2 separate regions of the Homo sapiens genome follow, and region 2 is linked to region 1. A link means that fine-mapping ties the variant in region 1 to the expression of a gene that starts in the linked region. Tissue or cell type: transverse colon. Region 1 holds a variant in brackets; the other region holds the start of a gene. All regions are shown on one strand. Distances are from middle to middle.

What was found. PIP is the estimated chance that this variant, and not a neighbour inherited with it, causes the effect.
Region 2: RAB3IP starts here. The variant in region 1 is fine-mapped to the expression of RAB3IP in transverse colon (CEDAR, PIP 0.95). The same link has a PIP of 0.9 or more in monocytes.

Annotation. Positions count from the first base shown.
Region 1 is chr12:69,805,112-69,807,878 of GRCh38, forward strand. The region is part of intron 8 of RAB3IP (RAB3A interacting protein); the gene reads left to right. Among named protein-coding and RNA genes, the nearest start is that of MYRFL, 19 kb to the right of the region's middle. The variant G/GTT (reference allele first, on the strand shown) is at 1,459.
Region 2 is chr12:69,737,340-69,739,968 of GRCh38, forward strand. It overlaps RAB3IP (RAB3A interacting protein), which reads left to right and starts at 1,521. Exons shown (of 11, transcript NM_022456.5): 1 at 1,521-1,692. It overlaps LOC101928002 (a long non-coding RNA gene), which reads right to left and starts at 1,211. Exons shown (of 4, transcript NR_110072.2): 1 at 939-1,211. RefSeq lists a silencer at 1,269-2,098.

The sequences.
Region 1 (2,767 bases):
GTCTTCCTACCCATGAGCATTGAATGTTCTTCCATTTGTTTGTATCCTCTTTTATTTCATTGAGCAGTGGTTTGTAGTTCTCCTTGAAGAGGTCCTTCACATCCCTTGTAAATTGGATTCCTAGGTATTTTATTCTCTTTGAAGCAGTTGTGAATGGGAGTTCACTCATGATTTGGCTCTCTGTTTGTCTGTTATTGGTGTATAAGAATGCTTGTGATTTTTGTACATTGATTTTGTATCCTGAGACTTTGCTGAAGTTGCTTATCAGCTTAAGGAGATTTTGGGCTGAGACGATGGGGTTTTCTATGTGTACAATCATGTCATCTGCAAATTGGGACAATTTGACTTCCTCTTTTCCTAGTTGAATGCCCTTTATTCCCTTCTCCTGCCTGATTGCCCTGGCCAGAACTTCCAACACTATGTTGAATAGGAGTGGTGAGAGAGGGCATCCCTGTCTTGTGCCAGTTTTCAAAGGGAATGCTTCCAGTTTTTGTCCATTCAGTATGATATTGGCTGTGGGTTTGTCATAGATAGCTCTTATTATTTTGAAATACGTCCCATCAATACCTAATTTATTGAGAGTTTTTAGCATGAAGGGTTGTTGAATTTTGTCAAAGGCCTTTTCTGCATCTATTGAGATAATCATGTGGTTTTTGTCTTTGGTTCTGTTTATATGCTGGATTACGTTTATTGATTTTCTTATGTTGAACCAGCCTTGCATCCCAGGGATGAAGCCCACTTGATCATGGTGGATAAGCTTTTTGATGTGTTGCTGGATTCGGTTTGCCAGTATTTTATTGAGGATTTTTGCATCAATGTTCATCAAGGATATTGGTCTAAAATTCTCTTTTTTTGTTATGTCTCTGCCCGGCTTTGGTATCAGGATGATGCTGGCCTCATAAAATGTGTTAGGGAGGATTCCCTCTTTTTCTATTTATTGGAATAGTTTCAGAAGGAATGGTACCAGCTCCTCCTTGTGCCTCTGGTAGAATTCGGCTGTGAATCCATCTGGTCTGGACTTTTTTTGGTTGGTAAGCTATTAATTATTGCCTCAATTTCAGATCCTGTTATTGGTCTATTCAGAGATTCAACTTCTTCCTGGTTTAGTCTTGGGAGAGTGTATGTGTCGAGGAATTTATCCATTTCTTCTAGATTTTCTAGTTTATTTGCATAGAGGTGTTTATAGTATTCTCTGATGGTAGTTTGTATTTCTGTGGGAGCAGTGGTGATATCCCCTTTATCATTTTTTATTGCACCTATTTGATTCTTCTCTCTTTTCTTCTTTATTAGTCTTGCTAGCGGTCTATCAGTTTTGTTGATCTTTTCAAAAAACCAGCTCCTGGATTCATTGATTTTTTTGAAGGGTTTTTTGCGTCTCTATTTCCTTCAGTTCTGCTCTGATCTTAGTTATTTCTTGCCTTCTGCTAGCTTTTGAATGTGTTTGCTCTTGCTTCTCTA[G/GTT]TTTTTTTTTTTTTTTTTTTTTTAGTATTTATTGATCATTCTTGGGTGTTTCTTGGAGGGGGTATGTGGCAGTGTCATAGGATAATAGTGGAGAGATGGTCAGCAGATAAACACGTGAACAAAGGTCTCTGGTTTTCCTAGACAGAGGTCCCTGTGGCCTTCCGCAGTGTTTGTGTCCCTGGGTACTTGAGATTAGGGAGTGGTGATGACTCTTAATGAGCATGCAGCCTTTAAGCATCTGTTTAACAAAGCACATCTTGCACTGCCCTTAATCCATTTAACCCTGAGTTGACACAGCACATGTTTCAGAGAGCACGGGGTTGGGGGTAAGGTTATAGATTAACAGCATCCCAAGGCAGAAGAATTTTTCTTAGTCCAGAACAAAATGGAGTCTCCTATGTCTACTTCTTTCTAGACAGACACAGTAACAATCTGATCTCTCTTTCTTTTCCCCACATTTCCCCCTTTTCTTTTCAACAAAACCGCCATCGTCATCATGGCCTGTTCTCGACGGTCGCTGTCTCTTCGGAGCTGTTGGGTACACCTCCCAGACGGGGCGGCCGGGCAGAGGTGCTCCTCACTTCCCAGACGGGGTGGCCGGGCAGAGGAGCTCCTCACATCCCAGACAGTGGGCGGCCAGGCAGAGGCTCTCCTCACCTCTCAGACGGGGCAGCCGTGCAGAGGCGCTCCTCACCTCCCAGACGGGGCAGCCGGGCAGAGGCGCTCCTCACCTCCCAGACGGGGCGGCCGGGCAGAGGCGCTCTTCACCTCCCAGACAGGGCGGCAGGGCAGAGGCGCTTCCCACCTCCCTGACGGGGCGGCCGGGAAGAGGCGCCCCTCACCTCCCAGACGGGGCGGCCGGGCGGAGGCGCTCCTCACATCCCAGACAGGACGGCTGGGCAGAGGCGCTCCTCACTTCCCAGACGACGGGCGGCCGGGCAGAGGCACTCCTCACCTCCCAGACAGGGTGGCTGGGCAGAGACGCTCCTCACCTCTCAGACAGGGCGGCCGGACAGAGGCGCTCGCTTCCTAGATGGGGCGGCCGGGCAGAGGCGCTCCTTACCTCCCAGACGAAGGGTGGCCGGGCAGAGGTGCTCCTCACATCCCAGACGATGGGCGGCCGGGCAGAGGCGCTCCTCACTTCCTAGATGGGGCGGCCGGGCAGAGGTGCTCACTTCCCAGATGGGGCGGCTGGGCAGAGGCGCTCCTCACCTCCCAGATGATGGGCAGCCAGGCAGAGGCGCTCCTCACCTCCCAGACGGGGCGGCCGTGCGGAGGCGCTCCTCACCTCCCAGACGGGGCGGCCGGG
Region 2 (2,629 bases), 68 kb before region 1:
TCACAGTGGAATTGATGTCTAGGCTAAATAATGAATAACAAATAATTAGCAAGGCAAGGAAAAGGTAGGAGATCAAGACATAAAAATAAACAGCATATGGAAATACAGGGTTGTATGTGAGTACGGCAAGACTGGGGAGCCTAAGTGGTTTGCTGTATATTTAATTTATTCATTTCACGTAGCTACTATTGACATACTTGTCTCCCTATATATGTTTGAGTCCGTGGATGGTGGGGACTTTGTAATGGTTTCTCTGTCCCTATGTCTAACAGGAGGCACACAGATGGAGTGCAATAAAATGTCTGATGAATAAATGACCAGCTATGAGGTGTAAGGGAGAATAGGAATCCATTAATGAGAAAGGTCATTTCTAGTGGCAATGAATATCAGATAAGATAGATTTAAGAATTATTTAGAAATTAGGATGAATAAGACTTGGTGATATATTGGCGATGGGGTATAAAATAAGAAACACTGGCTTTCTAGGTTTCTGGATTACAGATGCATGATAATAGTTATAATGGTATAATAACAATAGCTAATATTTATTAGGCACTCTGTGTCATGAAGTACGCAAAGTGTTTACATGAATTAAGCCATTTAAACTCTTAATGACTCAGTGAGGCAGGTTCTGTATACTCATTCACTGATGAGAAAATTGGGGCTAGAGAGATTCATTTGCCTAAGGTCACTCAGCTAGCAGGTGGCAGGCTCAAGCCCAGTAATTCTGACTCCAACAACCATACATATAGTCTACTTTTCTTTACTGCCTCTAATAGATGAGATTAATACCCAGAATGATGGTCCTATTCAATAAGTGTATCACACAAATGCACGTTTCTCTTTTGCTAAACATAGAGACACATACTATGACTACCTCTATTATTATTATTTTTTTTTGATTTTTGGGATCTTGGCTCTTTCTGTATTTTTCCTACCTGGAAGACCTAAAGTGGGGTAGAAGTTTGATAAAACAGTTGGCACAAAAGATGAGAGAAGACAGGTACAGACATGACATTCTCGAACGCTCTGGCAGTTGCTGGAATGATGGGATCTGGGTTCTACAGGATTCCTCCCCTCCCATCTCCCGCCACACACACACACGTCGTAAGGTGTATATGGCCGCGGAGTCTCAGGTTGGTTCTAGGAGTCCTCAACCCACGGCAAAGGTGCCTCTTCTCCCTCCTGGAGAGCCCAACATGCTTGAAGTTAACCTGAGGCCGCCTCTCGGGCCCGGCGAAACAGAGCGCGGGCCCGACGAAACAGAGCGCGGGCCCGACGAAACAGAGCGCAGCTCCGGCTCGCGCTGGTTCCCAGGGAAACCGCCCGCGGAGGAACCTCGGGCCAGGGCCGTGACACCTGCGACGAGCCCCGCCTGGCGCCAGGGGGCGCGGAAGCGCGTCCGCCCCCAGGCCCCATGCCGGGCTCGCCCCGCCCCTGCCGGCCACACCCCCCTACCCCGCCCTCCCTCCGTGAGGACCGGCCGCTCCCGGCTCCCGGCCCCCGGCCCCGCTTCCGGCGCAGGCGCAGTCCCGCGTTCCCTCGGCGGCTGCCGGCGTAGTGAGCCCGCCGCCGTGGAGTGTAGCGGAAAGGGCTCGCCGTCCTCCTCCGTTTCTCGCTGCTTCGGGACGCGCTCTCTGCGGCTCTGTGAGCGCCCCTGAGCGCCGGCAGCGGCCGCGGTGGGTTCTTCAGGTGAGTGCGGCCGCGGGAGGGAGAGGCCCGGAGCGTAGAGCACCGCCCCCCTCGGCGCCCGCGCGCCCGCCTCTGGCGAGTCGGCCAGGAGGGGCGGCCGCGGCAGGTGCAGGTGCTGGCGCCGTGCAGGGCGCGGCACGCGGGGGTTCGGGGGGATGCCCAGGCCCGGTGAGCTCGCTCTCCGCCTGGGCACTTGGGCTCCGGGCCCTTGGGGGCGGCGTGTGGGGGGGACTTTGGCGACCCGGGTCAGCCGGCCGCCCCCTGGGCTGCTGGTGGGCGTCGGGCGGCGGCTCCTCCCCCGGGCACGGGCGCGTTACACATTAACTGCGCGGTCCCGCGCGCCCGGGGCAGGGAGCCCGAGTCCAGCGGGTTACCTGGCGGCGGGCGGGCGCGGCCGGGAGCGGAGGGCCGCGGTCGCGAAGAGGATGAAGAGAGAGTTCCCGAACAAGTCGGAAGCAGCTCACAACACCGGACGCCGCGCGGCAGGGCTGTGGACCTGGGGTGGTTTCGTGTCCCAGTCTTAGGAAACTACGCGCGAGGCACCGTGCTGAGGCGTAGAGGTCACCCTCGGGAGGTTTCGGTGAAACCTGGTGGGAAATTCCGGGCAGGCGCCCGGAGTCGCGCCCAAGTAGGCAGCTCCGTGCCGCCAGACTTGTGTTCGGGGGAGTTGAGACGAACTGCACGGGTGGGATTGCATGGCTCTGCCCTCCCAGCGTTGACAACTCGCCCCGACCGCCCAGGAAGCGCGAGCTTACTGGCTCCAGAAGTGATGATGCTGGGTGGAAGTCGCAGCATGTGAAGAGTTGCCGGTTGTTATGGGATTAAAAAAGATGAAAGGGTAAGGTCTTGAAAGACACGAGCGCTGAGTTAGTTAGTACTGATTACTGAGAGGCAATTTAGTTTCATGGAAATGTTGCCTGTTCGGAGGCTACCTGTT